Homo sapiens: one gene and its partners. The protein of the gene in region 1 purifies or fractionates together with the protein of each later gene. This does not show direct contact. Each region holds a gene or a part of one and is shown in the gene's direction. Other genes may lie near its edges. The genes, in order: TPSB2, PC, ACOT9, PRKD2 and XRCC3.

Region 1 (5,982 bases):
TCTCCGCCTCGTGAGTCATGGCTGCCGGGGCCTCTGCACGCGCCAGGTGCGTCTCCCCAGCCCAGCAAGCTCCTGGGGCTGAGTTTCCCATCGCTGCCCTGAGTCTGGGCGCGGCCACTGTCGTCTCACCCGACTCCCCACCCTTCTCTCGGGGACACTGCCCCACGTGGCCTCTTGCCCAGTGTCTGTCAATGGCCTGGGACCCCAGCCCTGCAGCAGCCCCAGGGGAGCGGCCGGGGATCGGGGCGGGGTGCCCAGGACGCGCCCTGATTGGCCCAGTGTTAGCCAATCAAGGCTCTCGCATCCCCATGGTGCTGATTGGTCCGCCTCCCAGGCCTGACCCAATCGGAGCATTCCTAGGAGGAGCGGCCCCAGAGCCCCTGACTCGGGGGTCCCAGAGCCCTCTGCACACCACAGCCCCGGTGTCCCCGTGTGTCCCTGGGTTCTCCCAGCCCTGGTGTCCCCTGAGTCTCTTCTTCACCGTCAGCCCTGGTGTCTCCCGTGTCCCTGCCACACCCTCATCCCTGGTGTCCCCCGTCACCCCATCCCCTCACCTCCTGGGCTCCTGAAGGTCCCATCTTGTGGGCCTCATTCATGGAACCAGGACGGGGCAGGTGGAGGCCTCTGGGGAGTTTGTCCAGAGAATGGAGGAGAAGCAGGGTCATGAGCAGGAGCGGTCTGGGCCACCCCTGCCTGTCCCCCGGGGGGTGCAGCCCGGAAGGAGTCCAGATGCATATGGCCCCGCAGTGCAGAGTCAGCCCCAAACCAGGCTGGTCCCAGGCAGGGTGGGGGCAGGAGGAGCCCTGGAGTGGCCCTGTGTTGGGGGTCGGGGGGCAGGCAGGGGGTCCTGGGGCTCAGAAGCGGAGGAGGTGGGCTGGAGGCCCCAGTGACCAACAGGCCCAGGGGAGTCAGGAGGTGGGGTGGACGGACCTGCAGGGACAGTGTCAGCGCTGAATGGGATGGAGAGCACAGGGAGCTGGGGCCGGGGGCAAGTCCACAGGGAGCTGGGGCCGGGGGTGAGACCATGGGGAGCTGGGCTGGGGCTGGGGGTGAGACCATGGGGAGCTGGGGCCGGGGGCTGGGACTAGTCCATGGGGAGCTGGGCTGGGGCTGGGGGTGAGTCCATGGGGAGCTGGGCTGGGGCTGGGGGTGAGACCATGGGGAGCTGGGCTGGGGCTGGGGGTGAGACCATGGGGAGCTGGGGCCGGGGGATGGGACTAGTCCATGGGGAGCTGGGCTGGGGCTGGGGGTGAGACCATGGGGAGCTGGGCTGGGGCTGGGACTAGTCCATGGGGAGCTGGGTCTGGAGCTGGGGGTGAGACCATGGGGAGCTGGGGCCGGGGGCTGCGACTAGTCCATGGGGAGCTGGGCTGGGGCTGGGGGTGAGTCCATGGGGAGCTGGGCTGGGGCTGGGGGTGAGTCCATGGGGAGCTGGGGCTGGGGCTGGGACTAGTCCATGGGCAGCTGGGCTGGGGCTGGGGGTGAGTCCATGGGGAGCTGGGCTGGGGCTGGGGGTGAGTCCATGGGGAGCTGGGCTGGGGTTGGGGGTGAGTCCATGGGGAGCTGGGCTGGGTCTCCTGGGGTTGCACCTGCACTCCTGTCTGCCCTTCCCTCTGCCGATGAAGCTCAGATCCCATGATAAGGAGGCACCTGCAGACCAGGGGTCCTGCACGGACAGCCCCAGAGGTGGACATTGAGGACTCGTAGGAGGACTTGGGTCTCATACGGCGGGTGGGGAGCAGGGCCCCTTCCTGGCTGAGGACACTTGGTGCTGTCCCCTCTCAAGGCTGTTTCCCCATCTGACAAAGGGGTCTCATGTGAGCCTCCCACCAAGTGAGTCGAGGAGGGCTGGCGCCACCCCCGTGGATTCGGAGTCCGTAAGAGGGGTGTCACCCGTCATGTCCCCACCCCGTGGGCACCTTCCCGTCTCTTGGAGGGTGGCCCATGGACATGAGTTCCTCACCCCGTGTCCCTCTTGGGGAAACAGGTTTCAGGAGCGATGGGTCTTGTAGCCTGGGACAGCCAGGCCACCTGGGTGCAGCAATGCCTGAAGGCCTCCTGGCACCGAGACAGGGGCAGGAGCAGATCCCACCAGCGGGAAGGTGGTGGGTTCTAGTGCTGGGATCCACCAGCTGACAGGTGGAGCTGCCAGTCTCCAGTGCTCAGCCCTCAGCGGGGCCTGCCTGGCAGCCCCACACACAGAGGGCATCGGGGTGGCGGGGGCACGTGTTACACGGGGGCCCTGGGTCTGAGTCATCCACTTCCTCCGAGTCTGGATGGGAGGACCCAGCGCCCCTCCTCCGCCCCCTCCTGATCTGGAAGCATAAATGGGGAGGGGAGAGCCCACTGGGTAGAAGGAACAGGGAGCGGCCAGGGTAAGTCCCCACTCTCAGAGACCCTGACATCAGCGTCACCTGGAGCAGAGTGGCCCAGCCTCAGACTCAGAGCACCAAGACCCAGGCCTGCAGGCCTGGACCCACCCCGGTCCCCCCGTCCCAGCTCCATTCTTCACCCCACAATCTGTAGCCCCCAGCCCTGCCCTGTGAGGCCCGGCCAGGCCCACGATGCTCCTCCTTGCTCCCCAGATGCTGAATCTGCTGCTGCTGGCGCTGCCCGTCCTGGCGAGCCGCGCCTACGCGGCCCCTGGTGAGTCCCAGCCGGGGTCCACCCTGCCCCTCACCACATTCCACAGGTCAGGGCCTGGGTGGGTTCTGGGGAGGTCGGGCTGGCCCCCACACAGGGAAGGGCTGGGCCCAGGCCTGGGGCTGCTTCCTGGTCCTGACCTGGCACCTGCCCCAGCCCCAGGCCAGGCCCTGCAGCGAGTGGGCATCGTTGGGGGTCAGGAGGCCCCCAGGAGCAAGTGGCCCTGGCAGGTGAGCCTGAGAGTCCGCGACCGATACTGGATGCACTTCTGCGGGGGCTCCCTCATCCACCCCCAGTGGGTGCTGACCGCAGCGCACTGCGTGGGACCGTGAGTCTCCCGGGGCCTGGAAGGGTGGGGAAGGGCTGGATGTGAGCCCTGGCTCCCGGGTGCTCCTGGGGGCTGCCCAGGGCCCTGAGTGGGATCCTCCGCTGCCCAGGGACGTCAAGGATCTGGCCGCCCTCAGGGTGCAACTGCGGGAGCAGCACCTCTACTACCAGGACCAGCTGCTGCCGGTCAGCAGGATCATCGTGCACCCACAGTTCTACACCGCCCAGATCGGAGCGGACATCGCCCTGCTGGAGCTGGAGGAGCCGGTGAACGTCTCCAGCCACGTCCACACGGTCACCCTGCCCCCTGCCTCAGAGACCTTCCCCCCGGGGATGCCGTGCTGGGTCACTGGCTGGGGCGATGTGGACAATGATGGTGGGTCTGGGGACAGTGGAGGTGGGGCCAGGGTCTTAGCCACAGCCCAGCCCCTGGGCTCCCTCTGGGCTCCAGGTGGGGGTTGCCCGGCCCCCTCCTGAGGCTGCACCCTCTTCCCCACCTGCAGAGCGCCTCCCACCGCCATTTCCTCTGAAGCAGGTGAAGGTCCCCATAATGGAAAACCACATTTGTGACGCAAAATACCACCTTGGCGCCTACACGGGAGACGACGTCCGCATCGTCCGTGACGACATGCTGTGTGCCGGGAACACCCGGAGGGACTCATGCCAGGTGGGCCCCGCCTGTCCCCCGCCCCCCGCCCCCCAACCCCCACTCCCAGGCCTGTTCGGCGAGCGCTGACCTCTGACCTTCCCAGGGCGACTCCGGAGGGCCCCTGGTGTGCAAGGTGAATGGCACCTGGCTGCAGGCGGGCGTGGTCAGCTGGGGCGAGGGCTGTGCCCAGCCCAACCGGCCTGGCATCTACACCCGTGTCACCTACTACTTGGACTGGATCCACCACTATGTCCCCAAAAAGCCGTGAGTCAGGCCTGGGGTGTCCACCTGGGTCACTGGAGAGCCAGCCCCTCCTGTTCAAAACACCACTGCTTCCTACCCAGGTGGCGACTGCCCCCCACACCTTCCCTGCCCCGTCCTGAGTGCCCCTTCCTGTCCTAAGCCCCCTGCTCTCTTCTGAGCCCCTTCCCCTGTCCTGAGGACCCTTCCCCATCCTGAGCCCCCTTCCCTGTCCTAAGCCTGACGCCTGCACCGGGCCCTCCGGCCCTCCCCTGCCCAGGCAGCTGGTGGTGGGCGCTAATCCTCCTGAGTGCTGGACCTCATTAAAGTGCATGGAAATCACTGGTGTGCATCGCTGTGTTTCTGGTTGTGGATGTCACTGGGAGAGAAGGGGTCCAGGTGTGCTGAGGACACCTGCCACAGTGTGAGGTCCTAGCCCTCAAGGCACAGCCAGTCACCGTGGGACGGGGCCTCCTGGGCAGCCCTGGTCCCCGAGGCTGGCTTCTCCCCACACGATGCATCCAGCATTCGGGTCACACAGAGCCACTCGGGCAACTCAGTTGATTATAAAGGACAGCCAGGTCCCTGCAACCGGGTCAAGACAGAGAATGGTCACCGGGAGCCCCAGGGCTGCCCATCACGAGCCCCTACCCCACGCTTCCCACGAGCTCTTCTCCCGGCCCCTCCGTCCACTGCTTGTGCTTTGCCTAGTTGTTTGCTTTGAGACGGGATCTCGCTGTGTCATCCAGGCTGAAGTGCAGTGGTGTGATCAGGGCTCACTGCAGCCTTAACTCCTGGGCTCAAGCGATCCTCCCATCTTGGCCTCCCATATAGCTGGGCCACAGGAGTGAGCCACCACGCCCAGTTAATTTTTGTATTTTCAGTAGAGATGGGGTTTCGCCATGTTGGCCAGTCTGGTCTCGAACTCCTGACCTCAAGTGATCCGCCCGCCTCGGCCTCCCAAAGTGCTGGGATGACAGGCGTGAGCCACCGCACCCGGCCTGAGTTTGACATTTTCAAATTCATTTTGAGGTCTTTCTCTACATCAATAGGTGAGCCCTCTGCGTCTGGCGAGTGTTGCATTTTATCCCGGGCTCTTGTTTGCATTTTATATTTGAACATGATTACACTCAGGAATGAAATGCGGGGCTGTTCTGGTTGAAAACAACTCTCTAAAGAAACATTCACTCTTTCCTTCCAACTGTTAGATGCAGAGATGTGCATTTAGTCTCCCGAATCTCTGCAAATGACCTCTGTCCTCACAAGGGGTGGACTCAACTCCCAGTGCCCTCTCCAGCCCCACGTGACCTCTGCCTCTGCAGCCCCTGAAGGCCCATCCCTCGGCTCCTGTTCTGCAGGCCCAGCGTCTTGTTAATGAAGATGGACCTGGAACTCGGGCCCTTCTTCCTCCCTCTGGCCCATCCCACCTTCTAGGGATCACAGAGACAGCACGGGGTGACCCCCAGGGAACACTGAGCCCCTAGAAGCACTTCCACACGCCCACTGGAGGTTTTGCGGGGTGGGAGTCGGAGGGATGAGACCCCGAAGGGAAGCAAGACGGCCCCTCAGGACAGGGCTGCCGGTGTAAGGAAAGGTGGACAGCAGGGGCCGGTCACTGGGTGGAGGGGGAGGGCGGGCTCCAGCCCCAGAGCTTCCCAAATTAGATCTAAGATCCCTGGGAAGCTCAGTGAAGCTCAGCCCAGTGACACTGGCAGATGTGAGCGTCAGCTTCAGCAGGAAGGGTCTCTCAGGACGTGGCAGGCAGGCTGCTGGCCAGGGCTGCAGCCACCTGCGTTTTGACTGGGACGGGGGCACCTGCTCCAAGGTCACCCACGTGGCTGCCGGCAGGAGGCCCTGGTTCCCCGTCACAGGGGGGTGTGAGGCGGAGGGCGAGTGGGGGGGACAGGGTTCCCACCGAGGGGACGGCACCCAGGTGGCCAGGCCACCGCAGACAGAAGCAATCCCAGGTCTCCCAGGGTCCTGGACAACAGGAGACCCCACCAAGCTGGGGGCAATCACCAGGGCCAGGCCCCCCTCCCGGTTCCTCAGTTGGCTCTCCTGTCCAATGGTGGGGGTGAACGGCACCATGTCACAGGACTGCTGGGGCTCAGGGGATGGTGCCT
Region 2 (4,520 bases), on another chromosome or scaffold:
GGCCAAGCCCAGAAGTGGTCCGCAAGATGGGAGACAAGGTGGAGGCCCGGGCCATCGCCATTGCTGCGGGTGAATATAACGGGCAAGCAAGGGGTGGCCCCGCAGCTCCTGGAGAGGGTCCAGCAGGGAGGGGTGGCAGGGATTCCCGCCTGTTACAGAGACTCCCCCACACCTTTCTCCCAACAGGTGTTCCCGTTGTCCCTGGCACAGATGCCCCCATCACGTCCCTGCATGAGGCCCACGAGTTCTCCAACACCTACGGCTTCCCCATCATCTTCAAGGCGGCCTATGGGGGTGGAGGGCGTGGCATGAGGGTGGTGCACAGCTACGAGGTGAGTGAAGATGCCCAGGGCTGGGAGCAGGGCAGGGCAGCCTGCCGTGGGGGCAGGGGCGGACCACTCAAGGGATCTGGAAAGTGGGTGGGGTTCATGGCAGGGGAGAGGTAGCGCTGTGGGGTCTGAGGTCTGGCTGGCCCCTGCCCGCCCTCGCAGGAGCTGGAGGAGAATTACACCCGGGCCTACTCAGAGGCTCTGGCCGCCTTTGGGAATGGGGCGCTGTTTGTGGAGAAGTTCATCGAGAAGCCACGGCACATCGAGGTGCAGATCTTGGGTGAGTGGTCCTGACGCCCCGCCTGGGGCAGCTGGAGGCGGGAGCTGAGAGGCCCAGTCCTGGTGCCGTCACAGTGGCTGGCCTTGGGGACAGCCCTGGGGCCTGTCGGGCGCTTTTCCAGAGGACTCTGGAAAGTGGGCTCTAGGGGCCGAGCTGGCAGTTGGTCCTCACAGCCTTGGTGATGCTGGTGTCTCTCCTGGCAGCCTCTGTACCGCTGGCAGCCGGCACTGACTGGCGACAGTGGTTATGTGGGGGTGATGGGGCATTTAGGAGGCGTGTAGATTCCAGTAAAAGCTAAGCCCAGTTTACCTCCCTCCCCAGGGGACCAGTATGGGAACATCCTGCACCTGTACGAGCGAGACTGCTCCATCCAGCGGCGGCACCAGAAGGTGGTCGAGATTGCCCCCGCCGCCCACCTGGACCCGCAGCTTCGGACTCGGCTCACCAGCGACTCTGTGAAACTCGCTAAACAGGTGAAGGGTGGGCTTCCCGTGTTGGGACAGGAGCCTGTGCTCACAGGCCGGCAGGCCTCACAGTGGGGCGCTGGTTGGGGAAGGGGACCCTGAGTCCCCTTCTGGGGACTGGGGATGGGGAGAAGAGGGTGAAGGACTCTCCTGGGGGCCAGAAGTGGGTTTGTGGCATCCTTCCCATGTGCAGTTGAGGCACCTGGCCCAGAGGCCAAGCTTAGAGTCCAGGATGGCTGAGAAGAGGGAGGGAAGGAGCCCCAGCCGCCTCCTCAGCCCTGCTGCTACACAGACCTGGCTTCTCTGTGGCATCAGCTCATCCCTGTCATCAGGAGAATGAGATTCCGTGGATTCTGTCAAGATTGAGGACCATTATGAAGGCAGTCCTCCCTCATGTGCTTCTGTCTCCTACATCATGTTTATTATGATCTGTTTCCTTGCTCTGCACCCTCTGCCCATCTCTGCTTTTCTGGGACCTCTGGTCGGGGGGTCCTGGGCTGTGGAGGAGGCTGAGGTGGCAAGCTATCTCCCCACAGTGACCTGCCCCAGGACTGGCCTGGAGAGCACCTGCTGTGGCCAGGTGTGCAGCGGGGTCCTGCCCCCTCTTCTTCCCTGGCCTATAGGCAGCAGAGGATGCGTCACCTCCCCATGCCGAAGGCCGGGGTGTGCACTCTGCAGCAAGGCCTCAGCCACAGCTAATGCGAGGCATCGACCAGGGTCGCGTTTAAGTCAGGTCTTATTTACTGGCTTATACTATTTCACATTCCAGAACAGGTTTAAGGGAGGTGATTCAGTCTGGTTTATCGTTTTGGTGAGACCAAAAGTGAAACTGGAATTAGGGCTGAAATTTGAGTTAGAGTCATTATCTGTTGGTACCTCTCAAATGAATTTCTTTGGGTGGTGGTGGCCAGAGGTGACTGCGCAGTAGACTAGAAGGGGACTTTCTGAAAACACCTCCAAGCAGAAGCAGCGGCTGGGAGAGGCCTGGGTCTCCGTGTCTGGGTGGATGACACAGCCTTGGCGGGCAAGCCCAGGAGGCAGCAGGGCAAGGTGCCGAGCCTGGGATGGGTGGGGGCTTCTGCCCATGTCTCGTCCCAGATAAGCTGGGTGCAGCCATCTGTGGCTCCGGGAACCCTGGAGCCTAGTGGACTACTTGGGGGACGTGTCCAGGCAGGAGCATGACCTGGGCCCTGGGGTCTGTCTGCCATCTGTGGGGGCAGGGTTTGCCACAGGCCATTCTTTTACGGAACCAACCCAATGGGTGGGACGGAATCCCTGTCCTGAGTCCAGTGAGTTTGCCCAGGCCCTGCCTGTGCCCTCCCCTGCTCACGTGGCCGCCCCCACAGGTGGGCTACGAGAACGCAGGCACCGTGGAGTTCCTGGTGGACAGGCACGGCAAGCACTACTTCATCGAGGTCAACTCCCGCCTGCAGGTGGAGCACACGGTCACAGAGGAGATCACCGAGTGAGTGTGGGCGGGCAGGCGGGGCGGGAGGCGCGGCTTCTAGGATTTGCATAAAGTACAGGCGAAGTGGCTCCTGGGGCCAGCCAGGGGGCTTGCTCACTCCCCACATTGGTGGAGAGCAATGGGGATCCAGGTACTTAGTGTTTTAAAAGTCATTATTCTAAAAGCATTACGTGGTTATTATAAAAATCAGCACAAAGGAGCAAATAAAAATGACTGACAGCCCTCCTCTCTGTCAGGACGCTGCCGATTGCTCAGGCCCAGGTGCTCCCATCTGTCAGAGGAGTAAAGCAAGGCTCAGAGACATTTGGAGAGTTGCTCGGGGTCACACAGCTGGCGCTGGAACCCAGGCATCTCCGGCTGTCTTTGGTTTGCTCCTTTCCCGGTTTACCTGTTTTACTAGAGACATAGTTTGATGCAATAGAGATGTTTTATATAGAATTTTTATTCTACTTTTCAAATTATTTAATATTTGTTGAAGGCATTTCCCCAGGCCATAATTCTGTCTGAATACTTTTAGTGGCTGCGTACTATTCCGTCTTGTGTGTATTTCTTAACTTACATAGTCCTCGATTGTTAGGCAATTAGTTTGTGTGTCTGGCTTTGGTGGTTATTAAGCGTGTCACTTATCATCTGTGTGCCTGAATGTTTGGCTTCAGCTCTGAAGAGTTCTGAGGGTAAACCCTTCAACAGGATTATCTGATTGAAGGATAAGTAGCATCCCTCGGAACAGCCCTCTAGAGAGGTGGCACTAGCGTGCTCCCTGCAGGCACTGAGGATGACATTTTCAAAATCCGCCTGGTTTCTAAATGACAGTCATGATGGCCCTCACCCTTCAAGGTCTCTACTATGAGCCATGTAATTTCTTGACGCTGCTTTGGGCCAGCCCATCTCACTGTGGAGCATCCCTGACCCCAGTTCTGCCCCCAGCCCCAACCCCACCTGAGACTGAGGATGCTGTCGGGGTGGCTGCTGTGGCTCGCCGGGGGCATGGAGGCCCCTCCCTCCCCTTAGGAGAAGCTTAGAGACAAGGCCAACACTTTGGCCGAGTGAGACTCTTCCCCTCAAGCTGCTGTGAACTCCTCGGTCTTGGGTCTGCTTAGAGCGTCCTGTTAGGGATGGGAGTCTGTCTGCTGTGGAGCACGGGTTTTGTGTCAGACAGATTGGGGCTCAGGTGCTCTCAGGTCCCAAGCCACGTGGAGCCTGGGTGAGCTCCAACCTCTCTGACCCTCGAGCTCCTCCTCTGGTGGGAATGACAGGGCTCTCAGCACACCGTCGTGGAGATGAAGCATGGGAGGAGTGCAGCCTGGCCTGTGGCACTGAGTGGAAGCTGTCATCTCTGCTGCGAAGTGGGCCAGCAGGCAGCAAGAACACGGGGAAATCCTGCCAGTGTAGGTTCCAGGCTGCCTTCACCACAAGCCTCAGTGGCAATACATGTAAAACCTTGAGTGGTTTTTTTTAAGACATAGTCTTGCTCTGTCACCCAGGCTGGAGTGCAGTGGTGCAATCTTTGCTCACTGCAACTTCTGCCTCCCGGGTTCAAGTGATTCTCCTGCCTCAGCCTCCTGAGTAGCTGGGATTACAGGCACACACTACCAGGCCTGGCTAATTTTTGTATTTTTAGTAGAGACAGGGTTTCACCATGTTGGCCAGGCTAGTCTCGAACTCCTGGCCTCGTGGGATTCACCCACTTTGGCCTCCCAAAGTGCTGGGATTACAGGCATGACCTGCTGTGCCCAGCCTGGTTTTTTTGTTTGTTTGTTTTGTTTTTTAAACAGCTGTTCCACTTGGACTTGTGACTGCCCTTAGGAGCAGTAAGGCTGAGCTTGGAAAACCCTGCAGAGGTGGGGAAGCTTGCACTCTCCAAGCATCTCTAGGGGGTTTTGGGCACAAGTCCAGCAGGAAAACAGGCCTCAGAAGGACAGGTCCTGACCCAGCACCCACTGTGCAACCCTCTCACAGCTGTGGTTACCATTTCGAGG
Region 3 (6,725 bases), on another chromosome or scaffold:
AACAAGACAATCACTGAAAAGTGACTTGTGAACAATGTGAACAATGTGACAAAAATGAAAAGACAATGTGAACAAAAATGAAGGAGAGATCCTTGTAGGCTAAAAGGGGAGTCTTCCAGATGTGAGATTGATAAAAGCAGGGAAAATTCAGTAGAAAGAGAAAGCCGAAGACCATGCTCCATGTGTAACTCATGAAGTGATTCAAAACAGAAAGCTAGCTTAATTCAAATCAATACATTTTTACTAAGTATGGGGTATTGCGAAAAAGCATATGGCCCTTGCCTTTTAGGAAATTGCCGTATTTAGAGGCAAAGCAAGACTTGCTTATATTCTCAAAAGATCCCCACTCGTTACCTTATTTCCCCTTTAAACCGCTTTACCATATTTGAGATCATGTTATTTGCTAACTTGTTTGTTGATTTGTTTTCCTTCCTTATCAAGAGGCAAGCCCCTTAAGGGCGGGGATTTTTGTCCTTTTTTCTTTTTGCAACCCCAACCTCTGCAATAGTGCCTGGCACAATGCAAACAGCTCAATAATAATTCGTTGAAAGAAATGGAGAATTAGATCGTAGGGTGAAATAATCTTAAACTCTCTGGCCTTGAATCTCTCTAGCTCGCCCAAGATATCAAACATTGGGGGTCAGGCCGAGAAGAGGAGAGGAACAATTTTTTCCTGTTAGGTCAGTGGTTTTTAGCCTTTGGTTACATTAGCATCACCTGGGGGCATCTTTAGACATCATCCCGAAGCCCAGACCGCACCCAGGACTAAACTAGAATCTCCAGCCAGTGGGTCTCAAGCATCAGTTTTTTGTTGTTTTTTTTTTGAGACATTGTCTCCTTCTGTCGCCCAAGCTGAAGTGTAGTGGTGCGATCTCGGCTCACCGCAACCTCCGCCTCCCAGGTTCAAGCGATACTCGTGCCTGTCCCCCGAGTAGCTGGGATTACAGGCGTCTGCCACCACGCCTGGCTAATTTTTGAATTTTTAGTAGAGACAGGGTTTCGCCATGTTGGCCAGGCTGGTCTTGAACTCCTGACCTCAGGTGATCTGCCCGCCTAGGCCTTCCAAAGTGCTGGAATTACAGGCGTGAGCCACCGCGCCCGGCCAAGTATCAGTATTTTGGAAAGTTGCCCAGGAGATTCCAATGTGCAGCCAAGGGGAAGAACAGACGGAGCCAAGGCGCGGGGATCAAGGATAAAGGAGACAAGCTCCACTAGGCAGAGCCGGGCCTCTTCTCGACGTCACGCCCTGGCGTTGCTGCGTGGTTCGTTTACTCAACCGAGAATAGGCCGGTCCTCGCTGTAGCAACACGACCCGCACAACTGATTGAGTGGGAAGCTCCGCAGAGGCGGACTCCAGCCTCCCGCCAATGAACGGGTAGGGTCCGCCCGGCACAGCGCGGCCACGCCCCCTGGACGCCGCGGTCCCGCCCCCGGACACCGCTGTCCGGCTCCCGGGCTGTCCTCAGCAAGGGCGCGGTCTGGTACTCGTGCGTCTTTTATCGCCTCAGTTTCCCTCCGCCGACTAGCGCGCGGGGCCCGGTTCTCCATCGCGCGCACGGCAGCCTAGCGCAATGAGGCGGGCAGCACTGCGGTAGGTGGCGGGGCGTGGAAGGGGCTGGCAGGGCGGTAGCCTGGGGTGCCATCGTCTTCCCCTAGAGCTTCGGGCTGGCCCCGGCGGAAGAAGTGGGCCACGCATGGGCATTTGGGCTCTATGATAAGGGGCGCTCGCCCACTGTACCTCCGACCGGACATAAGCCCGCCGGCCTTTGGTTGGGAGAACCTCGCCCCCACTTTGGCGACTTCTAGCACTGAGTTTGATATTAAAAGCAAAGCAGCACTTTTAAGGGAGGAAGTTGGGTGTTCCCTAAAATTCCTTTGGCCTTGCTCATCCGGGGTGTGGTTGGTAGCCGCGTCGGGGTAGCCCCTTGTCAGAAAGATAATATTTGGAGTTCTATGTTACCTCTAGCCCTTCATCTTCCTTTGGAGAACATTTTTAGGATTAAATGCTTGACCTACTTCGGCTCTTACTTAAGTTTGTTGTAACATTGGCAGAGATTACAGGGTACCTTTTGGCTCCCAGGACCCTAGGACTGTGCGTCTAGGACCCTGGTGCCAATTTGAACTTAACTTTAATGAGCCGCAAAGCCCTTATAAGAGGCTGGGTGCTTTGATTGGGCCACGTGGGTAAGGGAGGATGCCTTTTTGTATATGTAATCTTCCCAGCTGGCACAGTTAAGGCCTGAGGGCCTTAGACTCCAGAGCGTGTCTAGCTCTCCCTAATCCCTTTCACCCGAGCATGCCACCCTTTCCAAGTTTTCTGCCTGGCTGCATCCCAGGGGGCTCACACCTGCTCCAGTTTCTGAAGTTATCTCGCTGCCAGTGGGCCTGTCCCCCTGATGTGACTCATAGTGCTTTTGACTCACATTAACCCCATCAATTCTCTTGGGGGTCCTGGATATCTCTCTCTCTCTCTCTCTCCCTCTCTCTCTCTCTCTCTCTCTCACTCACTCACTGTTCCTGGGGACTTTGTTATCAGTTGTAAGGGTTCTGTCTTGTTTATAGTACTTAAAAACAAACAAAAAACCTTTGTTAAACTATTTGAAGGCAGACTGAAAGTCATTATGAGAGGGGCCACAGTTGACTTTAGCTTGCAATGTGAAAGGTCTTCTACAAAAGCTCCATGGTCTTGTTCAGGTGCTTTCTCTTATAACCCTGTGTTCCTTTCTTGAAAATTCTATTGAGGCCGGGTGTGGTGGTGCACGACTGCAGTCCCAGCGTTTTGGGATGCTGAGGTGGATGGATCACTTGAGGCCAGGAGTTCGAGACCAGCCTGGCCAACATGGTGAAACCCCGTCTCTATTAAAAATACAAAAATTAGCCGGGAGTGGTGGTGCATGTCTGTAGTCACAGCTACTTTTGGAGGCTGAGGCAGGAGAATCGCCTGAACCGGAAGGCAGAGGTTGCAGTGAGCTGAGATCGCGCCCCTGCACTCCAGCCTGGGCAACACAGTGAGATTCTGTCTCAAACAAAAAACTATTGAACCTTAAGCGGATAATCTCTTAGTGTCTAGTGAGAGGAGGAGTTCACAAATGAATATAGACTGAGATGATTAGGTTCTTTGACTGGTGGGCAACCTTTGTAGCTTCTTTTCTTTTTTAGACTTGCAAGAGGCACCTTTGTTTAGTCTCTAAATAGAGGTTATTTCCTCAGAGTGGAGGGCATATGAGTGGTATTGCCTGTTATTGCACTGAACACTCTTCCTTGCCAACTGCTGTAAGCTTGGGACCCAGGGCTGAGCCAGGGTGAGTTATGTGACTCCCCAGGTAGGCCATGGAGGCCTTGAGTTTTCTTTTTTTTTTTTCTCTTTGAAATACTTTTTTTATTTCTTTGGGATATATGTCCAGAAGAGAAATTGCTGGATCATATGGTAGTTATATTTTTAATTTTTGGAGGAACTGCCTCATTATTTTTCAAAATGGCTGTACCAGTTTACATTTTCACCAATAGTGTACGAGGGTTCCCTTTTCTCTACATCCTCACCAACACTTGTTATCTTTTGTCTTTTTGTAATAATCATCTTTTTATTATTATTATTATTATACTTTAAGTTTAGGGTACATGTGCACAATGTGCAGGTTAGTTACATATGTATACATGTGCCATGCTGGTGTGCTGCACCCATTAACTCGTCATTTAGCATTAGGTATATCTCCTAATGCTGTCCCTCCCCACTCCCCCCGCCTTGAGTTTCTTGATCTCCTTTGATTGGAAAGGTTCAGTTACAAGGTCCTGGGATTTGAGTGTTGCAAAGGCCTCTCCACAGTAAAGGCCTAGAGGTTTTGCTATAAGTAAGACTCCTGAGGGCTTATCAGGAGATAAGCCAGTAACCCTGAGGTACTGAAGTGTTGAGTATTGATTAAAACCATTCTCCCACCTCCTCCACCTCAGTGCGGTGTGTGTGTGTGTGTGTGTGTGTGTGTGTGTGTGTGTGTGTGTGTATGTATTGGGGGAGATCGGAAGAACTGGGCTCTATCTGGACTCTGCTGGTGTGCCTGTTGACTGGCACTGGGGGAAAGTCGTCTGAAACTGGGGCCTCAGTTTCTTAAGGAGGTTGGTTTGAATCAGAATCTTCAAATATAGGGGGATCTGAGGGTACAAAAAGGGTCTGTGCACCTCCTGAAATAGTATATACCATTGTGTGTGTGAGCAAAAATGTATTCCAACCCTTCCCACGCCCGCTCGAGGTCCACAGTTTCCATCAGATTATCAGTAAATAGGATACCAAATGTAGTGAAAAGTTACCATTACATGCCAGGCGCGGTGGCTCACGCCTATAATCCCAGCACTTTGGGATACTGAGGCGGGCAGATCACTTGAGGTCAGGAGTTCAAAACCAGCCTGGTCAACATGGTGAAGCCCTGTCTGTACTAAAAACACAAAAACTAGCTGGGCATGGTGGTGCACAGCTGTAATCCCAGCTGCTCGGGAGGCTGAGGCTGGAGAATCGCTTGAACTCGGGAGGTGGAGGTTGCAGTGAGCCAAGATGTTGCCACTGCACTCCAGCCTGGGTGACAGTGAGACTGTCTCAAAAAAAAAAAAAGTTACCATTACCCGAATACTCTTGAATGCTATGTTGACAGTATGATATAGATTTATTATTACCAATATGCTATTGGTATAAGCAACATTTTTTTAAAAAGTGTTCCAATTATGCCTTTGTTGTGCCACAGGAATGTATTTCCAAATTTTTTAAGGCAGCATGCAAAGCAATGGGGCTCTAGGACTACAATTTTCCAAATAAATTGGCCCAAGTGTTTCTCTGTATTCATTAACTCCCTTCTTTTCTCTCCTCATTTGATTCTATGTTTGGCAGTGGTCCGTGATAGTGCCTGGCTTAGGCTATCTTTCCTTTTTTTTTGGAGACAGAGTCTTGCTCTTTTACCCAGGCTGGAGTGCAGTGGTGCGATCATGGCTCACTGCAGCCTCGACCTCCCCGGGGCTCAAGTGATCCTCCCACCTCAGCCTCCTGAGTAGCTGTGACCACAAGTGTGCACCACTACGCCTGACTAATATTTTAAAATTTTTTTGTAGAAACGGGATCTCCCTATGTTGCCCACACTGGTCTCAAGTGATCCTCCCGCGTTGGCCTCTCAAAGTGCTGGGATTACAGGCGTGAGCCATTGTGCCCAGCCTGGTTCTTTTTGATCTTTAGGGGAGACTTTGGAGAAGCATGACTTTCTGGAATAATGATAGCTAGAGATTTTTGAGGACTTGTCAGTATATTAGACATGCTCTTCTAGACGTGCCCTTCAGGGTTTAATATGTGTTAATTCCTTTATCCTTTTGACAATCCTATGGGATAGGTAGTATTATTATCCCCATTTTACAGATGAGGAAACTGAGGATCAGGGAGGTTAGGTAACTTGTCTAAGGTAACTCAGCTAACAAGCAGCATGATTGGGCTCTTTTTTTTTTGAGACAGAGTCTCGCTGTGCAGTGGCACGATCTCGGCTCACCGCAGCTTCCGCCTCCTGGGTTGAAGCAATACTCCTGCCTCAGACTCCCGAGTAGCTGGGACTGCAGGTGCCCGCCAGCATGCCCAGCTAATTTTCATATTTTTAGTAGAGACGGGGTTTCACCATATTGGCCAGGCTGGTCTCAAACTCCTAACCTCAAGTGATACGCCTGCCTCGGCCTCCCAAAGTGTTGGCATTACAGGCATGAGCCACTGCGCCCAGCCTTTGGGTTAACCCCTATACTGTATTGCCTCTCACACAAACAGGATGGAATGATTTTCATCCCTCTTCAGAAAATGCTGCTTCTTAGTGTAACAAAACAATTTCTGTGTATATGTGTATTTATTCAGGTATGTGAGACTGGTTATATAGCTCCTGTTAGTGATGCGTATTCAGGGTATTTAGCCATTCAGAATCAGATCCCATTTCTTATGTTGGATACATTTAACGTGTCTATTATAGTTCCTATTAATGTGTTGGGGGTCATGATTTTTTTGCTCTTTCAGCTAATGGTAGCAATAGAAAGGATTAGCTTTTTCCAGTGTGTTCTTTAAAACCAGATATATTCAGTTGTAGAATGCTAGTTTCTTTTTTGAGATGGAGTCTTGCTCTGTTGCTCAGGCTGGAATGCAATGGGGCCATTTCAGCTCACTGCAACCTCTGCCTCCTGGGTTCAAGTGATTCTGCCTCAGCCTCCAGAGTAGCTGGGACTACAGGTGTGCGCCACCATGCCTGGTTAATTTTTATGTTTTTAATAGAGATAGGGTTTCACCATGTTGGCCAGGCTGGTCTCGGACTCCTGACCTCAGGTGATCTACCCACCTCAGCCTCCCAAAGTGTTAGGATTACAGGCATGAGCCACCATGCCTGGCTGCTTGTTTCTGAGATGGAAGAATGAAGGAATACTTACTCTGTTTCCTTCAGTAAGGCATATGAACCTATAGAAGATACATAAAACAAAATAATGAAAAAAATGGAAAATTCAAATCACGTTCTGAGAAAATGCAGATTAGATGGTCAAAAACAAAAAGACGGCCAGGTGCGGTGGCTCATGCCTGTAATCCCAGCACTTTGGGAGGCCAAGGTGGGCAGATCACAGGGTCAGGAGTTTGAGACCATCCTGGCTAACATGATGAAACCCCGTCTCTACTAAAAATACAAAAAATTAGCCGGGCGCGGTGGCGGCGCCTGTAGTCCCAGCTACTCGGG
Region 4 (5,136 bases), on another chromosome or scaffold:
ACTGAATGCCAAATATTGTCCTGTGGGCTTTGGATGGTTTAATTCACTAACCATCATGGCAGTCCTCTGAGATAGGTGCTCTTCTGCTCTTCTTCCTATAGATGGGGAAACTGAGGCACAGAGGGGGGAAGTCACCTGCCCAGGGTTGCTCAGCTAGTGAGCCAAGGAGCCTGGATTCAAACCAGCATCCAGCTTTCTCTGGAATACCATGGAGGGTGGTGTGGTGGGGATGCTGGGGTGGGTGCGGCTCCATCACCTGGTGGAGCCTCCATCCCTTGCCCTCTGCAGGTGAAGCTGTGTGACTTTGGCTTTGCTCGCATCATCGGCGAGAAGTCGTTCCGCCGCTCAGTGGTGGGCACGCCGGCCTACCTGGCACCCGAGGTGCTGCTCAACCAGGGCTACAACCGCTCGCTGGACATGTGGTCAGTGGGCGTGATCATGTACGTCAGCCTCAGCGGCACCTTCCCTTTCAACGAGGATGAGGACATCAATGACCAGATCCAGAACGCCGCCTTCATGTACCCGGCCAGCCCCTGGAGCCACATCTCAGCTGGAGGTGCCTGGGGCCCGCCTACCCCATGGGCGGGTGGGTTGTGGGGTGGGGCTGGAGAAGTGGGCGGAGCCATGAGAGGGGGGTGGACCCGGAAACAGCCTGGCACCTTGGGGGTGGAGCCCAGTGCTGGGGCGGGCCTACTGGAGGGATGTGGCTACAGGAGGAGCCGTCCTGTAAAAGATGGGCTGGGACTCAGGCCTAGACTAGGTTACTTGGGCTGGAAACCAAGTGCCCCAGAAGCGCTGAGGACACTTGGAACCTTAGGGGGGCTGAGTGAGACTTGGCTTGTCTAGGGTGGGACCAGGAAAGGGACTGGACTTGAGGGTACCAAAGGGCTGCGGTGACCAGGAGAAGGGGCTGAGCCTCCCAAGGCATTGGCTGGGACCTGGAGCCTTTGGGTTTACGACCCCAAAAGGGTCAGCCTTGCAAAAAGGAGGCACCGGTGGGTAGGGTTGAGAAACAAGGGCATGGCTACTTTGCTGTGTACTGGGGCCGTGACTTGGGTGAAGATGGGCCTGAAGCCTGGGGTCGGTTCAGTGACCAAGGGAGCCAGTCTAGGGACGTGGCCGTGGAGGGTTTCCGAAGAGGTCCAGGAACAGGGCTGACCCTGAGTCCTGGAAGCTGGGAGTGGATGGGAGTGGGGAGGAGAAGGGAGCCAGGACTGAGGCAGACATTGCACTCTGCATTCTGGGGCTTTGGTGTTGTGGCTGGGCCTGATGAAGTGGCACCGGGCCTGGTGACTTGAACCTACTTGGGAATGGGTCTGTAACTTTCCCTGCTTGGAAAAGTTAAGTCCTAAGGCCTGGAGCTTTGAGGCTGGGTGTGGGATGGCATGTTTAGAGGGCCAGAGGCAGGGCTAAGATACTGGGGTGTGTCAGAAGCCAGGAGAACAAGGGACCTGTGTTGGAGCCAGGGAGCTCAGGAAGACAGATGGAGTATGGGAAGGGGGGGGATCATTCATTCATTTATTTATAACCATTTATTCAACAAGTACATTCATGTATTTGTAACCATTGATTCAACATGTTGAGTGCCCACGATGTGCCAGGCATTGACTGTTCCAGCTCTGGGAATACTGTGATGACTTGGACAGAAGGGGTCAGGTGCAGGGTAGCTCATTGAGTGGTCCGCGAAGGGTGGAAAGGGGAAGGGTCCTCTCTGGAGGGTGCGGCTTCATGGAGCAGGTGGAGCAGGGTGACACGGAGGTTGCTCGGTGCAGGACAAGACAAGGTCTTGGTGGTGGTCTAAGAGCATGGGCCCTAAGCAGTGAGAATGTGGATTGACTTGAGTCCTGGAGTAATATTGGGGGTGCTCAACACTGGCTTTTTTTTTTTTTTTGAGGTGGGGTCTCGCTCTTTCACCCACGCTGGAGTGCAGTGGCGTGATCTCGGCTCACTGCAACCTCCACCTCTTGGGTTCAAGGGATTCTCCTGCCTCAGCCTCCCGAGTAACTGGGATTACAGGCACACAGCACCATGCCTGGCTCATGTTTTATATTTTTAGTAGAGACAGGGTTTCGCCATGTTAGCCAGGCTGGTCTTGAACTCCTGACCTCAAGTTATTTGCCCGCTTCAGCCTCCCAAAGTGCTGGGATTGCAGGCATAAGCCATCACACCCCGCCAGCATTGTCTTTTGAGACCCACTCAGAAGTCCCTCAGTAAAAGTGCATCGAGTGTGCACAAGTGAATTTAAGTGTGGTTGCACCTGTGTGAGGATCACAGAATCCTGTGGGTGTTGACGGGAGCAGGGTGCCTGTGTGCACCAGGCCTCTCCTCGGATGGGTTCATACAGTGAAGCCTTGTCCTTCATGGCTTCCCATCAAGGAGAGAGCCTCGGATGAGTGCTGGCTTGTCTTGAAGCTTGACATTCGCTAGTCCTCTTTTTCACAATGAACAGGCCTATCTCTGAGCCTTCTGCAGGCAATGGTGACTAACTACCATCTGATGACATTTTGTTTTGTTTTGTTTTGTTTTGAGACGGAGTTTCGCTTTTGTCACCCGGGCTGGAGTGCAGTGGCACGATCTTGGCTCACTGCAACCTCTGCCTCCTGAGTTCAAGCGATTCTGCCTCAGCCTCCTGAGTAGCTGGGACTACAGGCATGCGCTACCATGCCCAGCTAATTTTTTGTATTTTTAGTAGAGACGGGGTTTCCGTGTTGGCCAGGCTTGTCTCGAACTCCTGACCTCGGGTGATCCACCCGCCTCGGCCTCCCAAAGTGTTGGGATTACAGGCATGAGCCACCGCGCCCAGCCTGATGACATAGATGCTCCCTGATTTGCACTGGGGTTAGATAAACCTGATAAACCCATTGCCCATTGTAAATTGAAAATATCATAAGTTGGTCAGGCGCAGTGGCTGAAGCCCATAATCCCAGCACCTTGGGAGGCCAAGGTAGGCAGATTGCTTGAGCCCAGGAGTTCAAGACCAGCCTGGGCAATGTATCTCTACAAAAAATACAAAAATTAGCCGGCCATAGTGACAGGTGCTTGTAGTCCCAGCTGGCTGCTCAGGAGGCTAAGGCAGGAGAATCAATTAAGCTGGGGAGGTGGAGGCTTCAGTGAGCATTGATCACGCCACTGCACTTCAGCTTGGGTAACAATGAGACCCTGTCTCAAAAAAAAAAAAGGAAGTATTGTAGGTTGAAAATCCATTTAGGCCGGGCGCAGTGGCTCATGCCTGTAATCCCAACAATTTGGGAGGCCAAGGCAGGCGGATTGCTTGAGGTCAGGAGTTAGAGACCAGCCTGGCCAATATGGTGAAACCCCATCTCTACTAAAAATACAAAAAGTTAGCAGGACATGGTGACACACACCTGTATTCCTAGCTACTTGGGAGGCTGAGGCAGGAGAATCACATGAACCCGGGAGGCGGAGGTTGCAGTGAGCCAAGATCGTGCCATTGCACTCCAGCCTGGGCGACAGAGCGAGACTCTGTCTCAATAAATAAATAAGTAAAAATAAAAAGAATAGTACAGGTGTAATTGTATGTACCTGTATATGACAAAAAGAAAAAAAAAGGTGACATAGGGGAATGGGGAAATTGAAGTAGAGAACAGGTGAAGAGAGGGAGCTGGTGTGAACATGCATGGGCAGGAGGAGACAAATTTGTAATGTAATGAGGAAATGGGTGGGTGAGTGATTGGCACAGGTGAGGCTTCTGAGCCACCTGAGCTGGTGCAGAAGGAAGGTGTTGATGGCAGGCAGGTAGGCTAGGGGGTGCCTATTGGAGGAGGAGTGACCCTTGACCTGTAGGGCTTGACCTGTTTCTCTTTCCTGTGCAGCCATTGACCTCATCAACAACCTGCTGCAGGTGAAGATGCGCAAACGCTACAGCGTGGACAAATCTCTCAGCCACCCCTGGTTACAGGTGATGCAGGGGGCAGGGCTGGCCCATTGGCTGGATTGGAGGAAGGGGTGGGAGTAGATCGCTTATTGGCTAGGCAGGTTGTGAAGGATGTAGGTTTCCTTGGGTCTGGAATGTGGCTAGGCCTCCCATTGGCTGGGTGCAGGAAGAGGGGGTGGAGCTAAATGTCTACTGGCTGGGTGGGTTGCAGAGGGTATGGCTTCACCTTCATTGGTACCCAGCTCTCAGTGGCAAACCAGAGGATATCCAGGCACTGCTCCAATGCAGACCCCAAGCTAACCCCAGTTCTCTCGGGCCCAGGAGTACCAGACGTGGCTGGACCTCCGAGAGCTGGAGGGGAAGATGGGAGAGCGATACATCACGCATGAGAGTGACGACGCGCGCTGGGAGCAGTTTGCAGCAGAGCATCCGCTGCCTGGGTCTGGGCTGCCCACGGACAGGGATCTCGGTGGGGCCTGTCCACCACAGGACCACGACATGCAGGGGCTGGCGGAGCGCATCAGTGTTCTCTGAGGTCCTGTGCCCTCGTCCAGCTGCTGCCCTCCACAGCGGTTCTTCACAGGATCCCAGCAATGAACTGTTCTAGGGAAAGTGGCTTCCTGCCCAAACTGGATGGGACACGTGGGGAGTGGGGTGGGGGGAGCTATTTCCAAGGCCCCTCCCTGTTTCCCCAGCAATTAAAACGGACTCATCTCTGGCCCCATGGCCTTGATCTCAGCACACGGCACTCTCGAATCATTACTCTGTTGTACCAACATGGAGTTCATCTGGAAGGAGGACTGCCTGAAAAGAGGAAGGATGGAAGGGGTGGGGAGAGAGGACTGATGGGAGAGGAGTCTTGGAAGGAGGACGAGCTGGGGTAGAAAATATACAGGAAGAGTGCCAGGAGAGAAGATGAGAAGGGAGAGGGAGGAGTAATGGAGGAGGAGTTGGAAACTGGGGAGAGATGGAAGGAATGTGACTGGAGGGTAGAGAACTTGGAGAAAAAGTAATCTCATGGTTTGTGATGACTGATTTTTTATTTGGTGGTGGTGTTACTACTAATCACAACTATTAATTCAGGCTGGGTGTGGTGGCTCATGCCTATAATCCCAGCAATTTGGGAGGCCGAGGCAGGCAGATCCCTTAGATCTCAGGAGTTTGAGAGCAGCCTGGCCAACGTGGTGAAACTCCCTTTCTACAAAAAGTTCAAAAATTAGCCAAGTGTGGTGGCTTGCACC
Region 5 (5,986 bases), on another chromosome or scaffold:
GATTACAGGCATGAGCCACCGCACCCGGCCGTCTTTTAGTTATTTTTTTAAAAAATATTTACATCTGGGCTCCTAAACGTGTTTATGTTGTAATGTTTGATTTGTCAGTGTTACTGATTATCCATGGACTTCTCTTGGGGGCTGTGAGGACTGAGCGTGCCTACACCTGTGTACCCCAACTTCCTCTCCCCCCAGCTCCCTGCCCATACTTAGAACCTAGTTTGGGTGACATCAGCTGTCAGGGTTGTGACTGGGTGCATACTGGCCATTGTTGAACCTGGTGTGGTGGTGCAGGGGATGGTTTTCTTTCTTACAGCATCTTTTTTCGCCCGAGTTAGTAAATGCTCAAAACTCAGGCCCCACGTGCAGCCCCTGCCCCCTGCTCCCCATGCCAGCCGCCTGGCTGTCATCCGGGGACCCTCCTGCCAGCTTCCATCCTCCCCCGTCTCCCCGGGCCTCAGCTACGTGAACCTCAGCACGCTGTCTGTGGCGAGAAGCCGGAGTGCTCATGGAGCTGCCGCAGCAGCCTGGTGACAGGGCAGGGCCTCGCTGTCCTGACCCTCCATCCTTGGCTGTTGGTTTTTATCCTCCTGTTGGTGGCCTTGTGATCACAGCTGCTGCCACAGCTGCAGACACGACGCTTGCAGACCAGGGACAGAGAAGGGCTCAGCCAGGGAGTTCCTTTCTCACCTGTGTCTCTTATCCAAAAACCAATGTTTCCAGAAGTCCCTGCAGACTTCACGGCTGTGAAGGGGGCTGGGGCTGTGAGGCTTACCAGGGGGAGCGCCCTGCCACAGCCCCGATCCCGGTGAGTCCTCAGGGCCCACAGAGCCTTCTGGAGCAGCCTGTCTGCGGGAAGCCCCCTCCGCTGGATCTGGTGAAACCCAGGGGCGCTTTCTTCATTCCCACCCTTCCATCTCCTTGTGTTTTCTGTGTGGCTTTTCTGAAGATCACACCAGTGCTTACTGTTTTCCAGCCGCACAATGGTTGTCTTTTCACTGCAGCGTTCAGCGCACCCGTGTTGAGGGGGTTTCTGATGTGGTGGGTGTAAGTCCCCGTGGCCGGGTGGGGCGCTTCGTCCACCACTGCTCCCTCTCGTGTGCGCTTCCTCGCACTTCCCTGATCGGCTGATCAGTCTGCAGCATTTGTCGTCTTTCTACAAGTTTGAAATTAGAAAGTGATGCACTTATCTGAGTCCAAAATTAACTTCCTTGCCCTCCTCCCCAGATGGCAGGTCCTGGGGATCTGCACCCCTGTAACTGCTGCCACCGCCGTTCTGATTCGCACATGCTCTGCCCCCTGCCCTGACTGCCCTGCGCAGCTGGCGTTTGGACCTGGGCTCTGCTACCCTCCCAGCGCTCCCCTCCCCAGGGCACATGTCCTCTCCCGCGGCTCAGCCCAGATCCATGCCTGGTGGGCGGGTGGTGGAAAGCTCGGTGCTGGTTTTTTCCTGCCCCCTTCTGGAGCACTGTCTCCAGCTGGCATGGAACTGGGTGCCTGTCGTTTCTTCTCAGTACCGGAACCTGCTCTCAGCACCGGGACCTGCCCAGCCCTGTCTTCTGGCTTCTGCCCCAGCTCACGAGGCTGGTATCTGTCCGAGTGCCAGGACTCAGGGCGCAGTGTCCAGCAGCCCTTTCCTCGTGCCTGTGCATCGGCCACACTGTGTCCAGGGTTTCCAGGGAGCAGGGGATCCGGTCCCTACCCACCTTGTCCCCAGAATCGGAAGCACGGTGCTCTCACAGTGCTCTTAACAAAGCACCTTTTGTCACTGTGTTGCCCTGCGTTGTGACAGTCTGACATTTTCCTGTAATTTATCTGTGTTATTTCAGCCAAACTGAAATCGGTAAAGGAGGTTTTACACTTTTCTGGACCAGACTTGAAGAGACTGACCAACCTCTCCAGCCCCGAGGTCTGGCACTTGCTGAGAACGGCCTCCTTACACTTGCGGGGAAGCAGCATCCTTACAGGTAGGTGGGCCCTGGCATCTCTGCCAGGGGTGACATGTGGCTCCAGCATCATGGTCCCAGTGGTGCAGGGCAGGGGCTGTGCAGACTTCACCCAGGGACCAGCCTCAGGGCGTGTGGCAGCTGCTCCAGCCCCAGAGTTCCCATCTTGCTTGTCCTACACCCATGGGGCTGTGGTCACAGCATCGGGTCAGAAGATGCGTGAGGTGGACACGGGCTGTGGGACCTCCTGGGGACCTTGCTCCATGGACCAGAGGAGGGGGTGCAGGAAGCAGGGGTGGATTTGGCAGTCAGCACCCAGAGCCCTTCAGGCTCTGGCAGGGTGGGAACGGTGTGAGATGGGGCCCTGGCCACGGTCCCACCACCACGTGTGGGAAACCAGGTCTCAGCAGGGGAAGGAGGTACCCAGGGAACCCCATGCGCCTGGACGGACAAGGTTTCCATCCCTGCATCTCAGCAGGCCCTAGTAGGCAGCGGGGTCCTGGCATGAGCAGGGCCCTCTCTCCCCTGCAGGTGGCTCAGTGGCCCAGGCCCCGAGGAACGTGCTGAACTTGGGGCTGCCGTGGTGGGCAGGTGCCACGGCCACACACACGGTGCTGTGGGCAGGGCTCTGGGCAGGCCTCACAGTCAGGGTGGCCTGCTCCACCTGGACGGGGTGCCCAAGGCAGTGTGCAGACTCCAAGGGAGGGGCTGCTCCTCCCGGCCCAGGCCCCAGGCCAAGAGCGCAGCCTGCACCGCATGTCCCACCTTGAGCCTTGCCCTGAGGGGCTTCGGTGTCGTGGAGGAGGCTGTGTCAAATGGCTCATCCAAGGCCCTTTAGCCAAGAGGCTGAGACCAGCATTGCTCCAGAATGGTATCTGTCACAGAGAACTGACGGCATGTGGTGTGCATGTGTGCGCGCCTGCGGGAGCCCATTAAAGCCGCTTGAGAACTGTTCAGCACCCCAGGGCATCCCAGCTGGACAGAGCTGTGCCTTTTTCTTCACATGGAGGCTGTTAGGGAGCGCCTCGGGGCTCTCTGGAAGCTTTGGCTGAAGGCGTCTGGTGCTGCAATTGCCCCATAGGGGGATCCCTGCGGGCATGTGATGGTGGCCCTGGGGCTCCCCCTGACTCTGCATCTCAGGTGCACCCGCCCTTCCCGGCTGGGCCCCCCTCCCTGCCCTCAGCACCTTGCTCACCCCCATGACCGCAGGCACCTGTGCTCCAGCCACACTGCACCTGGCACAGGCAGGCTGACCATGCCTCCCGCAGTCCCCAGCCCTGCCCGCAGGCCCAGGAGAGTCAGGCCTGACACTATCCCTGCCCTTTAGCACTGCAGCTGCACCAGCAGAAGGAGCGGTTCCCCACGCAGCACCAGCGCCTGAGCCTGGGCTGCCCGGTGCTGGACGCGCTGCTCCGCGGTGGCCTGCCCCTGGACGGCATCACTGAGCTGGCCGGACGCAGCTCGGCAGGGAAGACCCAGCTGGCGCTGCAGCTCTGCCTGGCTGTGCAGTTCCCGCGGCAGCACGGAGGCCTGGAGGCTGGTGAGTGGCCACCCCTTCCGTGGGGTCTGGGCAGGTGGGCGGCCCCTGCTTTGTGTGGGACAGCTTTCCGTTGAGGTGGGGCAGTGGCCGCCTCTTGCGCTGTTCCTACCATTGCGTCTCCCTCCTTCTCACCCTGATTGCCCTCGCTCCTTCCAGAACAGGGAGGGGGAAGTGAGGCTGGGCTCAGCTGACAGCAGGAGGGGTGGGAGGGTACGAACCCCACCACCAGGCAGCCGGCCCTCAGCAGAGCTAGGCCCCCAGGGGTCGCTGGCTGAGCACAGCGATGCCGGCCCACGTTCCGCACAGCTGCCAAGCCCAGAGTCCACAGAGCCAGCAACGCAGGGAGGGCAGCACAGCCTTTCCCCGGGTGCCCCGCCGCCAGGCCAGGTATGCTCCTGGCGCGGCCCCGTGAGCCTGTACGCTCTGTCTGTGAAACGAGGGTTCCCTGCATTGGACTAAAGCGTTCAGAGCATGCCTGCCTGGGTCTCTCAGGTGTTAAAAGTTCACGTAGTTTTAAACTGTGAGCTGTGAGGAGGAGAGATGTTTCTCAGTAGCTCCTTAACTTTTAAACTAATTCCCTGGTGTCAACATGCGATTCCCACGTTGTCTTAAACTCCACGTGAACAGAGTGGCAGTATTTTTTCATCGGTGGCACCTCCGAGCACATCTGCTAGGCTCACTTCCCACACAGGGCCGGACCCCAGGCCCTGGACCCACAGGCCCAGCCAGCCACCTCCTCACGGGCCTGACCTGCCAGCAGCGGTGTGGCTGGGAACCTCACCTCTGCCACCCTCAGGTCAGCGTCATCCCCAGGACCCAGGGTGTGCTGTGCCTGCCTGAGCTTCAGTGCTGGGTGGAGGGTGAGGGGTCTCCTGAGCCTCCGTGTCGGGTGGAGGGTGAGGGGTCTCCTGAGAGCCCAGCTGGGGTCTGCTCACGCCACAGGCATTTTTGTCCCTGCAGCCCAGGGGAGGGCACCCTCTTGTCAGGTGCCTGAGTCCCTGCGGCTGGTCTTGGGGATGAGCCTGGAGACAGCCAGAAGCCGGGAGGACAGGAGTTGGCCTTGAAAATGGGAGTCTCCCGCTTACCGCACGGAAGAGCTGCTGTGAGGTGGAGGCGGGACTCGAGCGTGCTCAGGAACGGGACGGGAGCCGCCCTCATTCTCCAGCGTCCTCCGTGCCAGGCTTCGTGCAAATCTGATTTGTGCAATGACTCCCCCTCAGCTTCCACCCCGTTGGCCTTTTCAGTGAAGCCCACACTCCCCGATACCCAGGGACACAGAAGCCTTAGGACACCCTCCCTGAATCCCCCAGCTGTGCCCAGCCCAGTGACTGCTGCGGGATGACAGCACAGTCCAGCCTTGCGGGCCAGGGGAAGGGAGGGGGCCCCACGGCCACCGTGACCACATGCAAGGTTAGGGGTCAGATGTGCTTTCCTGGGGAAATGACTTCCTTTCCTGGATCCAATCTAAAGGCCCGAATTTTGAAAAGAAAGCGGCAGGCGGGCTCTGAAGTGATTCCGACTCCCGTGCTTAAGCCGCGTGAGGCTCTCCCAGGCCTGCTGGGGCCCCGCCCACCGCTGGGCTGTCCACAGCCACCCTCCTGCCAGCTTCACGATGTCCCCATGACTGTGCAGCCCCTACATAACGTCACCCCAACAAAAACACGCTGCTTGACCGGTTCCACCTGCTTCCGAGCCTTCCAGCCCAGCCTCTCTCCAGCCAACAGGACGGAGGAAGCCCAGGGCCCCGACCTTCCTGTGGCTCCTGACTAGGGGCACAGTCACTGCTGGGGACACTGGTGGGGAAGGGAACCAGCCACAAAAGGGATGTGGCCTCCCAAGGCAGTATTTATACGTTCCTGGCCTCAAGCGGGCCAGATGCTTCTCAGAAGCTTAGTTCTGACACAGAATGGGGCGGGGGGTTCCTGACCCATTTTTGCAACTCTTCTTTACGTTTGAAATTCTGTCAAAGCAAAATCAGCTCAGAATTAAAGGTTACGCGGACACTCACAAACAGGCTGCATGACACGGCGTGGGGGCACTGGCTCTCCCACAACTGCATGTGCCACTGCAGGAACAGGACGACGCCCCGTGGGCCACGGGGTCCTGGCTGGGCAGCCTTCCTGGCATAGTCAGTGCTTAGAGAGCTCGCCGGCCTTGTCTTTTTGTTTTTGTTTTGCAGGAAACTGGAGTTTTATTATTACTCAAATCAGTCCCCCTAAGCCTTCCTGTTTTTTAAATTGAGATGTAATTTACATGCCATAAAATTCCCTCTAAAAGTGTACAGTTCGGCCTGATAGGCGCAGTACCTCATGCCTGTAATCCCAGCACTTTGGGAGGCCGAGGCTGAGGCAGGCGGATCATGAAGTCAGGAGTTCGAGAGCAGCCTGACCAACATGGTGAAACCCAGTCTCTACTAAAAATACAAAAATTAGCTGGGCGTGGTAGCGCACGCCTTGTAATCCCAGCTACTCAGAAGGCTGAGGCAGGAGAATCACTTGAA

The links.
Region 2: the proteins of TPSB2 (region 1) and PC purify together in Homo sapiens (affinity purification with mass spectrometry; one large-scale study listed by BioGRID and IntAct). This does not show direct contact.
Region 3: the proteins of TPSB2 (region 1) and ACOT9 purify together in Homo sapiens (affinity purification with mass spectrometry; one large-scale study listed by BioGRID and IntAct). This does not show direct contact.
Region 4: the proteins of TPSB2 (region 1) and PRKD2 purify together in Homo sapiens (affinity purification with mass spectrometry; 2 studies listed by BioGRID and IntAct, with this or other methods). This does not show direct contact.
Region 5: the proteins of TPSB2 (region 1) and XRCC3 purify together in Homo sapiens (affinity purification with mass spectrometry; one large-scale study listed by BioGRID and IntAct). This does not show direct contact.

What each region holds. Positions count from the first base shown.
Region 1 is NC_000016.10:1,226,555-1,232,536, reverse strand, and holds TPSB2 (tryptase beta-2 preproprotein), read left to right. Parts: upstream 1-2,352; 5' UTR 2,353-2,375; intron 2,376-2,585; coding exon 2,586-2,646; intron 2,647-2,799; coding exon 2,800-2,971; intron 2,972-3,080; coding exon 3,081-3,346; intron 3,347-3,473; coding exon 3,474-3,637; intron 3,638-3,722; coding exon 3,723-3,887; 3' UTR 3,888-4,201; downstream 4,202-5,982. Other genes in the region: uncharacterized protein LOC124903621, read right to left, coding at 5,297-5,982. UniProt on the Homo sapiens protein: Tryptase is the major neutral protease present in mast cells and is secreted upon the coupled activation-degranulation response of this cell type. May play a role in innate immunity.
Region 2 is NC_000011.10:66,866,864-66,871,383, reverse strand, and holds part of PC (pyruvate carboxylase, mitochondrial precursor), read left to right. Parts: coding exon 1-69; intron 70-186; coding exon 187-332; intron 333-491; coding exon 492-609; intron 610-930; coding exon 931-1,082; intron 1,083-2,419; coding exon 2,420-2,538; intron 2,539-4,520. UniProt on the Homo sapiens protein: Pyruvate carboxylase catalyzes a 2-step reaction, involving the ATP-dependent carboxylation of the covalently attached biotin in the first step and the transfer of the carboxyl group to pyruvate in the second.
Region 3 is NC_000023.11:23,737,991-23,744,715, reverse strand, and holds the start of ACOT9 (acyl-coenzyme A thioesterase 9, mitochondrial isoform a precursor), read left to right. Parts: upstream 1-1,439; 5' UTR 1,440-1,571; coding exon 1,572-1,591; intron 1,592-6,725. UniProt on the Homo sapiens protein: Mitochondrial acyl-CoA thioesterase. Catalyzes the hydrolysis of acyl-CoAs into free fatty acids and coenzyme A (CoA), regulating their respective intracellular levels. Regulates both mitochondrial lipid and amino acid metabolism.
Region 4 is NC_000019.10:46,673,816-46,678,951, reverse strand, and holds the end of PRKD2 (serine/threonine-protein kinase D2), read left to right. Parts: intron 1-288; coding exon 289-556; intron 557-1,495; exon of another isoform or gene 1,496-1,812; intron 1,813-3,833; coding exon 3,834-3,919; intron 3,920-4,216; coding exon 4,217-4,429; 3' UTR 4,430-4,636; downstream 4,637-5,136.
Region 5 is NC_000014.9:103,704,503-103,710,488, reverse strand, and holds part of XRCC3 (DNA repair protein XRCC3), read left to right. Parts: intron 1-1,829; coding exon 1,830-1,967; intron 1,968-3,273; coding exon 3,274-3,486; intron 3,487-5,986. UniProt on the Homo sapiens protein: Involved in the homologous recombination repair (HRR) pathway of double-stranded DNA, thought to repair chromosomal fragmentation, translocations and deletions. Part of the RAD51 paralog protein complex CX3 which acts in the BRCA1-BRCA2-dependent HR pathway.